Regions from separate parts of the Homo sapiens genome. Here region 2 is linked to region 1. The links come from fine-mapping of genetic effects on gene expression. A gene starts in region 1. The other region holds a variant in brackets. All regions are shown on one strand. Distances are between the middles of the regions.

Region 1 (5,369 bases):
CAGCTTCTACCTTTTAGGTCAATAGTATTAAGCCTCTTCAAGTGGTCCTGAAGTATTAAGCCTCTTTAAGTGGTTACTGAAGCTGTATTCATCTTTTTTCTGTGTGTGTGTGTGTCATTTTGTATTGTTTCTGTTGCTATATCTTTGAATTTATTTACCTTTTTCTCTGCATTGCTTAATGCGCTAGCAATCCCATCCAAAGAAATTTTTATTTCAAATATTTTTCACCTCCATCCAGAAATTTGATTTTTCAAAAATCTTTCCAGTTTCTCTCCTATCATGTCTTCCTTTAAATCTTTGAGCATATTCATAACAGGTGTTTAAAATCCTTGTCTGTTAATTCCATCATTTTTATCATTTTGGGGTTTGTTTCTATGAACTTCGTGAGATATTTTCTTACCACTTGGTCTCTCTCTCTCTCTTTTGAGACAGAGTCTTACCCTGTCACCCAGGCTGGGTTGTGGTGGTGCAATCATAGGTCACTGCAGCCTCAAACTCCTGGGCTCAAGCAATCCTCCCGCCTCAGCATCCCCAAGTGCTGCGTGTCTTTCAATTTTTGACTGGATGTCTCACATTTTGAATTTAATGTTGTTGAATCCTGGATTTTACTGTAGTCTTTCAGAGAGTTTTAGAATTTGTTCTTACAGGTAATTAGGTTACTTACAGAGCAGTTTGATCCTTTCAGGGCTTGTTTTAAGGCTTTTGAAGAATCTACAGTAGTTTATGTTCTGGGTCCTGCAGTCTACGGTTATTATATCTCACTAAGGCATGACACTTTCGTAACCACCCAAAAGGTTCATCTTGCCTACTGCCTAGACAGAGTCGATTTATCAAGACAGGGGAATTGCAATAAAGAGCAATTCATGCAGAGCTGGCAGTGCAGGAGACCTGAGTTTTATTAATCAAATCAGTCTCCCTGAGCATTTGGGGATCAGAGTTTTTAAGGATAATTGGGTGGGTGAGAAGCCAGTGAGATGGGAGTGGTGACTGGTTGGGTAGGAGATGAAATCATAGGGAGTCGATGCTGTCCTCTTGCACTGAGTCAGTTCCTCCCGTGGGGGACACAAAATCAGATGAGCTAGTTTATCCAAGATCAGGTGAGTCAGTTTATCAATCTGGGAGGTGCCAGCTGATCCATCAAGTGCAGGGCCTGCAAAATATCTCAAGCACTGATCTTAGATTTTACAATAGTGATATTATCCCCAGGAGCAATTTGGAGAGGGTTAGAATCTTGTAGCCTTCAGCTGCATGAGTCCTAAATCATAATTTCTAATCTTTCGGCTAATTTACTAGTCCTACAAAAGCAGTCTAGTCTCAAGAAGAGGGTTTATTTTGAGAAAGGGCTATCACCTTTGTTTTAAACTATAAGCTATACACTAAGTTCCTCCCAGTGTTAGTTTGGCCTACGCCTAGGAATGAATAAGGATAGCCTGGAGGTTAAAAGCAAGATGGAGTTGGTTAGGTCTGATCTCTTTCACTGTCTCAATGATAATTTTGCAATGGCAGTTTCACATCTGAGGTTTCTATTGCGTGTTCCATGGTATTCAATAATCTCTTCACTCTGGTTGCTGGGAGCTCAAATGATTCCCAGTTCTGTGTGACCTCTCACCATTGTTTGGTGTACTGCTCCCCAGTAATTGTTCTTTCCTGGCCTTGTGGAGTTTCACGTTTTTTATTCAGTTAAAGATTCAAGGTACTCCTAAGCAGATTTCTGAAGCTCTTTTTCCATGTAATTCCCTCCTCTCCAGAATTCTGCCCTACAAATTCCAACCGACTTGGCCTACCCCAATTTCGTCAACTCCAATCTCTGTCTTTTCAACCCAGGAGATCCTAGGTTTCCATATGATTTCCTTTCATCGCACCACAGACTGGAAATCGCCTCTGGGCAAAAGGGCAGGATGATATACGGCTCCTTTTATTTCTTTTCTCTCAGGTAAAACAGTCCACAGCTGTCCGTTGTCCAATGTCTGAATAGGTGTCTCCTATATTTTGTTCCGTTTTCTAATTGTTTATAGTGGGACACTAAGTCCCGACCCATTTTCTTTTCTTGCCCAGAGTGGAAGTTTTAGGAAACTCCTTATGGAAAATGTGAATTGTTTTATTATTTTTTATGGTCGAAAACATCTTTCTCTATGATATCTTCCCACTCACCCTACTTTTTTCCTTCTCAGGAAACACTGACGGGAACACACGTGCCGGTGCTACCCTCCAGTGACTGGACTAGATCCTTGCGCAACTTCAACCCGCGCTAGCTCCGCCTACGGCCGGCCACGCCCCGTCTTCTCACCGGCGCGCCTCCCTCTTGTTCGTCCTCCCTCCCCCTGTGGACTGCGGCGCTGGCGTTCCGCGCACGCCGGCTCACTGCGCCTGCCCGGCGTGTGGACGCCACACGCTCCCGGAAGTGGGAGGTGGCCGCTGGAGTTTGTGTGGCCGCCGCCGCGGGAACGCGAGCCCGGTAATTTTTCAACGGAGAAAGGCGAGGCTTTCGGGCTCTGCAGAGTGAGAGTTAGCAAGTGTCCGGCTCCAGCAACTCTCCTCTGGCGTGACAGCCGGCATGGAGGATCCACAGAGTAAAGAGCCTGCCGGCGAGGCCGTGGCTCTCGCGCTGCTGGAGTCGCCGCGGCCGGAGGGCGGGGAGGAGCCGCCGCGTCCCAGTCCCGAGGTGAGGAGTCGACCCGCGCCTGGCTGTTGGCGCCAGCTGCCCCGTCCCCAAAGCGCCCTCGGCACCCCTTTCTTCTCAGGTGTCCCGCAGAAGGTGCAGCTGTGCGCCCTTGGACCCCAGCCTCTTCCTCGGTGCCCAGCTCCCTGGCTTTATCCTCGGGTGGGTGTCTTGGAGCCCCCTCAGGGCCGAATCACTCTCTGGGAGGGAGGAAATCGTCAAGACCAGTTCTGTCTACAGTGGGTTAACAGGTTCTAAGAGGGAGTTTTGCTTTAAACTTAATTCTGTGTTCACGGTTGCTGTTGTCACTCCATGTAGCCGTTATGGGTAGTTTGCAAGGCTTTATGTTTTTAAAATCTCACCATATACGCTAGGTATGTCACTTCATGCCTGTTTTTAAAAAAAGAAAAAATTTAAAAAGCACTCACCAGCATCCCTGTCTCTGTACCTGTTAAGTGGAGCTTCGTCTTAGCTGCTTTTGCTCATTAACTGGTGTCTCATATAACCATAGTATAAGATTGAATGAATCATTTTGACATCTCATCGGTTGAACTTAGTTACAGTGGCAAAGTTGTAGAACAGTCTTAAAACTTATTTAACGAATGTTAATTGTTGACTAGCGCTGCGGATTGTAAGTGATTGAATACTAAAATTGATCTTTTCCTAATAATAAACATGTTGAACACTTCGTAAAGCTTCATAAAGTGCGTATTTGCAAGAGGCCTCCTAACTCTTGCTCCTTCCGTCCACAGTCAGTTTCCATCTGGCAGCTAGAATGAGCTTTTCAATAACATGAATTTGGCTTATTCCCCTCCTGAGTCACTTCCATTTGCTGCTCTGCGGGGTCGGGTGCCTGCCTCCCTTGGTAATTGCATCTCACACAGTTTTTTCCCTTTTGTTCCCAGTGCCCCTCGCTGCCTTGTGTTCTTTGACATTGGAAAGAAGGTCTCGTTAAGGATCTCTGTATGTTCCTTTTGCCCTGTGTGCACTTCCTTTGGATCCTTGCAATTATCTTTCTCCTTCTAAGGTTGTTATTTCAAAGAGTACTTGCACATCCCTTCTCTTGTAAAGAACCACTCTTCCACCTGCCTCCCTCTTCAGCCTGAGATACGTTGTCAATCTCATCCTGTAAGTGGGTTTTAAAATAAATTTCGAAGTTTATTTTTAGTAAAAGAAGTGTGTTTGAATATGCTTCTTTATATTTGAAAGTCTTGACACTTTTACAGCTACTTAAGGCCTAGGTCTCTGTTCCAAATTGGCTTTAGTGACGGTAGTAATTGTTAAAAACTTACTGTTGCATGCTCTTTATAGTGATACTTTTTTTTTTTTTTTTTTTTTTTTTTACAAAAAGCCGGTCGTAGTTGCCCTCTCCCGTAGTCCCAGCTACTGGGGAGGCTCAGTGGGGAGGATCACCTGAGCCCATGGGTGGAGGCTGCAGTGAGCTGTGATCGTGCCACTGCACTCCAACCTGGGTGACAGAGTGAGACCCTGTCTCAAAAAATAATAGTAATGATACTTTTTTTTTTTTTTTTTTGGAGACGGAGTTTCGTTCTTGTTGCCCAGTCTGGAGTGCAATGGCATGGTCTCAGCTTACTGCAACCTCCCGCCTCCCGGATTCAAGTGATTCTCGTGCCTCAGCCTCCCTAGTAGCTGGGATTACAGGAACCCACCACCACGCTTGGCTAGTTTTTGTATTTTTAGTAGAGATGGGGTTTCACCATGTTGGCCATGCTGGTCTGGAACTCCTGACCTCAGGTGATCCGCCCACCTCGGCCTCCCAAAGTGCTGGGATTACAGGCAATGAGCCACTGCGCCTGGCCATGATACAGTGTTTTTCAATCTGGGCCAAAGTTTTTTGTTGAATTCAGGTGGTAAATTTCCATTATCTCTAATGCTAGTTGTCTTTGTAAACTAGTAGAAGCTATTGCATATTTATATTTTTAATAAGTAGGTTCAGATTTCATCAGAACTCTCCTTTTGGAAGAACGTCAATCAAGAAAAATTCTAAGTTTTTTTTCAGTGTGCAGATGCAGAGGTTTTCCTTTTCTTTTTTTAAAAGGTAGTACCTAGATTTTTGGCAGCAGAATAATAGCATTTCCAGAACATGTTTTCAAAATGTTCTCTATACAGAAAAAGTTTTATTTGACAAGCAGTTACTTTGTAGCTTACTGTTAAAATGTGTTTTCTTTTTTCTTGCAACAACAGATTGTGTTCCTTTAAAAAAATGCTAAAAATCAAGCTCCGGTACCCTTCCCAATAAGAAGAGGACAGCAATTATAGAATACCTGTCTTTTTGTAAAAGAAAATTTGTAACTCATCTTTAAGTTCAACAACAGTTTTTTTATGTTTTTTTTTTTTTTTTTTGAGAGGGAGTCTCTCTCTGTTGCCCAGGCTGGAGTGCAGCGGCTCAGTCTCGGCTCGCTGCAAGCTCCGCCTCACGGGTTCACGCCATTCTCCTGCCTCAGCCTCCTGAGTAGCTGGGACTACAGGCGCCCGCCCGGCTAATTTTTTGTATTTTTAGTAGAGACGGGGTTTCACCGTGGTCTCTATCTCCTGACCTCGTTATCCGCCCGCCTCGGCCTCCCAAAGTGCTGGGATTACAGGCGTGAGCCAACGCGCCCGGCCTCAACGACAGTTTTAAAGTAGTTTGCCACAAGATAGTAAACCTCTGTTTGGTATAGAAGATTTTCATGGCCACATCCCATAATGT
Region 2 (5,369 bases), 58 kb after region 1:
TTTCATCGTTGGACAACATTGTTTCACACATCTGTGAAATAGGCCAAAAAAAATAAATAAATAAACAGCAACTTCATTGATAAATAAATAAATAAATAAATAAATAAATCTTTTATCTTTGGCCTTTTTAACCGTCTCATACAAACCAACTTTCATGCGCGTCCGTGTGAAGAGACCACCAAACAGGCTTTGTGTGAGCAATAAGGCTGTTTATTTCACCTGGGTACAGGTGGGCTGAGTCCAAAAAGAGTCAGCGAAGGGAGATAGGGGTGGGGCCGTTTTATAGGATTTGGGTAGGTAAAGGAAAAAGCGGGGTTGTTCTCTGGCGGGCAGGAGTGGGGGTCATAAGGTGCTCAGTAGGGGAGCTTCTGAGCCAGGATGAGCCAGGAGAAGGAATTTCACAAGACAATGTCATCAGTTTAGGCAGGAACAGGCCATTTTCACTTGTTTTGTGGTGGAATGTCATCAGTTAAGGCAGGAAGCGGCCATCTGGATGTGTACATGCAGGTCACAGGGGATATGATGGCTTAGCTTGGGCTCAGAGGCCTGACATTCCTGTCTTCTTATATTAATAAGAAAAATAAAATGAAATAGTGGTAAAGTGTTGGGGTGGCGAAAATTTTTGGGGGTGGTTTGGAGAGATAACGGGCGATGTTTCTCAGGGCTGCTTCGAGCAGGATTAGGGGCAGCGTGGGAATCTAGAATGGGAGAGAGAAGCTGAAGGAAGATTTTGTGGAAAGGGGTGATATTGTGGGGTTGTTAGAAGAAACATTTGTCTTATAGAATTATTGATGATGGCCTAGATACAATTTTGTATGAAGTGAAAAAAGAAGGGAATAAGACAAGGAGAAAAACAGGTATTAAAGGACTAAGAATTGGGAGGACCTAGGACATCTACCTAGAGAGTGCCTAAGGAGGTTCAGCATAGCCTTGCCAGCAAAGATTATTTATTTACTTTAAGAGTTAAGAGTGGCGGTTTGGGGATAGCACCAGGCGATATCAGCTGCGATGGCTTGGAGAAACAGTGTGAACCGGCAGTGTAAACAAGAGCAGGGCATGTATGAGTAGTTGAGAATGGTGAATAGGAGTATGACTAGACAGAAGATAGTAGGGATGACAAGTTTTCTGGGGCACAGTCCAAGTTGGTCTGGTGTCTGGAATGAGACTGGGGCTTAATAAAAAGGAGCGTCCATACAGGAGCTCAAATGGGCTGTACCCTGTAGCATTCCGAGGACAGGCCTGAATTCTGAGAAGGGAAAGTGGTAAAAGTATTGTCCAGTCCTTTTTAAGTTGGAGGCTGAGCTTGGTAAGATGTGTCTTTAAAAGACCATTAGTCCGTTCTACCTTTCCTGAATATTGAGGATGGTAAGGGGTACGAAGTTTCCACTGAATACCAAGAGCCTGAGAAACTGCTTGGGTGATTTGACTAATAAAGGCTGGTCTGTTATTGGACTGTATAGAGGTGGGAAGGCCAAACCGAGGAATTATGTCTGACAGAAGGGAAGAAATGACCGCGGTGGCCTTCTCAGACCCTGTGAGAAAGACCTCTACCCATCCAGTGAAAGTGTCTACCCAGACTAAGAGATATTTTAGTTTTCTGACTTGGGGCATGTTGAGTAAAGCCAATTTGCCAATCCTGGTGGGGGGCGGGGGCAAATCTCCAAGCTTGATGTGTAGCGAAGGGAGGGGGCCGGAACAATCCCTGAGGGGCAGTAGAATAGCAGATGGAACACTGAGAAGTGATCTCCTTGAGGATAGATTTCCATGATGGAAAGGAAATGAGAGGTTCTAAGAGACGGGCTAGCGGCTTGTAACCTACATGGAAGAGGTTATGAAATGACCACAGAATAGAATGGGCCTGTGAGGCTGGAAGGAGATATTTTCCTTGGTCTAAGAACCATTTGCCTTGTGTGGGAAGAGATTGATAGGTGGAAGTTTCAGCGGGGGAGTAGGTGGGAGTGAACGATGTGAAGGAGAGAAACTGGCCGTGAAGGACAGAAGTTGGAAAGCTAGCTGCTTGTCTAGCCACCTTATCAGCATAAGCATTGTCTAGAGCAACGGGATCTGATGCGTTTTGATGCCCCTTGCAGTGAATGACCCCAGCTTCTTTTGGAAGTAAAGCGGCCTTAAGCAGAGTTTTTATTAAAGAGGCATTAATGATGGAGGACGCTTGCGTAGTGAGGAAACCTCTTTCAGCCTGTATAACAGCATGGTGGTGCAGAATATGAAAGGCATATTTAGAGTCAGTATAAATATTGACGCGTAGTCCTTTTGCAAGAGCGAGGGCTTGAGTTAAGGCAACTAATTCGGTTTGTTCAGAGGTAATGGAGGGGAGCGGAGCGGTAGCCTCAGTGATAGATGTGGAAGATACTATAGCATAGCCTGCCTTTGCTGATGAGTGGCGATTAGGCCTGCTGGAACTGCCATCAATAAACTAAATGTGATCGGGGTGAGGAGCAGGAAGGAAGGAAATATGGGGAAATGGGGTGAATGTCAGGTGGATCAGCCAGATACAGTTATGAGGGTCAGATGTGGTATCCAGAATAATGTGGGAGGCCAGATTGAAGTCCGGGCCAGGAACAATGGTAATTGTGGGAGACTCAACAAAGAGTGAGTACAGCTGAAGGACCCGGGGAGCAGAAAGTATATGCATCAGGTGTGAGGCAGAAAATAGACTTGGGAAGTTATGAGAGGTGTAGAAAGTGAGTTGACCATAGTTTGTGATTTTAAAGGTCTCTGAAAGTATTAGGGCAGTGGCGGCCGCTGCACGCAGACATGAGGGCTAGGCTAAAACAGTAAGGTCAAGTTGTTTGGACAGAAAGGCTACACAGTGCTGTCCCAGCTCTTTTGTAAGAATTCTGACCGCACTAACCATGCCTGGGAAGGAAAGGAGTTGTTGTTTTGTAAGGGATTGAGGTTTGGGAGATTAGCCAGACATGATCAGCAGGGAGAGCATGTGTGTTTTTATGAGAATTATGCCGAGATAGGTAACAGATGAGGAAGACATTTGGGCTTGACTGAAGTAATGGGTGCTGTC[C/T]GTGAAGTTTTGCAGCAGTATAGCCCAGGTAATTTGCTGAGCCTGATGGGTGTCAGGGTCAGTCCAAGGGAAAGCGAAGAGAGGCTGGGATGAAGGGTGCAAAGGAATAGTAAAGAAAGCATGTTTGAGATCCAGAACAGAATAATGGATTGTGGAGGGAGGCATTGAGGATAGGAGAGTATATGGTTTTGGCACCACGGGGTGGATAGGCAAAACAATTTGGTTGATAAGGCACAGTCTTGAACTAACCTGTAAACTTTGTCTGGTTTTAGGACAGGTGAAATGGGGGAATTGTAAGGGGAGTTTATAGGCTTTAAAAGGCCATGTTGTAGCAGGTGAGGGAAAACAGGCTTTAATCTTTTTAAAGCGTGCTGTGGGACAGGATATTGGCATTGAGTGGGTAAGGGTGATTAAGTTTTAATGAGATTGTAAGGGGTGCATGATCAGTCGCCAAGGAGGGAGTAGAGGTATCTTATACTTGTGGGTTAAGGTGCGGGGATACGAGAGGAGAATGCGAAGGAGGCTTTGAACTGGGGAAAAGGGCAGCAATGAGGTGTGGCTGTAGTCCAGGAACAGTCAGGGAAGCAGATAATTTAGTTAAAATGTCTTGGCCTAATAAGGGAACCGGGCAGGTGGGGATAACTAAAAAAGAGTGCAAAAAAGAATGTTTTCTAAGTTGGCACCAGAGTTGGGGAGTTTTAAGAGGTTTAGAAGCCTGGCTGTCAATACTTACAACAGTTATGGAGGCAAGGGAAACAGGCCCTTGAAAAGAAGGTAATGTGGAGTGGGTAGCCTTCGTATTGATTAAGAAGGGGACGGACTTAACCTCCACTGTGAGAGTTAATCAGAGTATCTGTGATGGTCCTGTAGGCTTCCGAGGCAATCCGGCAGTGTCAGTCTACAGCCGCTAAGCTGAGAAGATCTGGGAAGGAGTCAGTCAGAGAGCCTTGGGCCAGAGTTCCAGGGGCTCTGGGAGTGGCTGCCAGGTGAGTTGAACAGTCTGATTTTCAGTGGGGTCTCGCTCAGATGGGACGTGGCTTAGGAGGAATCCCGGGCTGTGGGCATTCCTTGGCCCAGTGGCCAGATTTCTGGCACTTGTAGCAAGCTCCTGGGGGAGGAGGTTCTGGAGGAACCCCTGGCAGCTGCGGTTCAGGTGTTTGGAGTTCTTGTGTGCTGGAGATGTGGCTGGGGTTTGTCTCACAGTGGAGGCAAGGAATTGCAACTCAGAAATATGTTGCTACTTGGCTGCCTCTACTTTATTATTGTACACCTTGAAGGCCAGGTTAATTAAGTCCTGTTGTGGGGTTTGAGGGACGGAATTTAATTTTTGGAGCTTTATTTAATGTCGGCAGCAGATTGGGTAATAAAATAAATGTATATTGAGAATAAGACGGCCTTTTGACCTTTTAGGGTCTAGGGCTGTAAAGCGTCTCAGAGTTGCTGCTAAAGGGGCCATGAACTGGGCTGGGTTTTTTATATTTGATGAAAAAGAGCCTAAACACTAACTGATTTGGGAGAGGTCAGATAAAGAAAAAGCATTAACCTTGACTATGCCTTTAGCTCCAGCCACCTTTTTAAGAGGAAATTGCTGGGCAGGTGGGGGAGGGCTAGTCATGGAATGAAACTGTAAGCCAGACCGGGTGTGAGGAGGGGAGGTGATAAAAGGATTATAGGGTGGAGGAGCGGAGGCTGAGGAAGAATCGGGACCTAGCTCGGCCTGGCAAGGAGGGGAGAGGTCAGATGGGTCTGTAGAAAAGGAAGATTAGAAAGACTCAGCGATGCTTGGGGTTGGGACTGAGGGGACAGGCGGGAGGGAAAGAAGGAAGATTTGGGATGAGTTGCATGGGGAACAGAGACTAGGGAGGGTCCAATGTGTAAAAGAATGCCTGGACATCGGGCATCTCAGACCATTTGCCCATTTTACAACAAGAATTATTTAGATCTTGTAGGATGGAAAAATTGAAAGTGCCGTTTTCTGGCTATTTGGAACCACTGTAGAGTTTATACTGGGGTCAAGTGGCATTGCAGAAGAAAATAAGGCATTTAGGTTTTAGGTCAGGTGTAAGTTGAAGAGGTTTTAAGTTCTTGAGAACACAGGCTAAGGGAGAAGAAGGGGGAATGGAGGGTGGAAGGTTGCCCATAGTGAAGGAGGCAAGCCCAGAGAAAAGAGAGAGTAGAGACACGGAGGGAAGGGGTTCAGGGGTTCTTACCCTCCAGAAAAGCAGGAAAGGGGTTGGGGTGTGTAAATAAGGGGTTGGGGCACAGAGATAAGAGGTTGGAGTGTGGAAATAAGGGGTCAGGGTGCAGAGATAAGAGGTCGGGGCATGGAAAT

Alleles and levels. Positions count from the first base shown, and alleles are read on the strand shown. Sizes are in standard deviations (SD) of each study's normalised expression.
In carriers of allele T in region 2, the expression in lymphoblastoid cells of the gene that starts at base 2,388 in region 1 tends to be lower than with C alone (moderate effect, 0.42 SD a copy in GENCORD).

Evidence for each region. PIP is the estimated chance that this variant, and not a neighbour inherited with it, causes the effect. A credible set is the group of variants that fine-mapping cannot tell apart.
Region 2: its variant is the best candidate, but not a certain one, in a credible set for the expression of ERI1 in lymphoblastoid cells (GENCORD, PIP 0.50).

The regions. Positions count from the first base shown.
Region 1 is chr8:9,000,510-9,005,878 of GRCh38, forward strand. ERI1 (exoribonuclease 1) reads left to right here and starts at 2,388. Exons shown (of 7, transcript NM_153332.4): 1 at 2,388-2,662. The coding sequence starts at 2,555. LOC105379227 (a long non-coding RNA gene) reads right to left here and starts at 2,233. Exons shown (of 3, transcript XR_002956680.2): 1 at 2,152-2,233.
Region 2 is chr8:9,058,762-9,064,130 of GRCh38, forward strand. It overlaps a transcript of ERI1 not described here. Among named protein-coding and RNA genes, the nearest start is that of SNORD3I, 2.8 kb to the left of the region's middle. RefSeq lists an enhancer at 1,803-2,348. The variant C/T (reference allele first, on the strand shown) is at 3,038.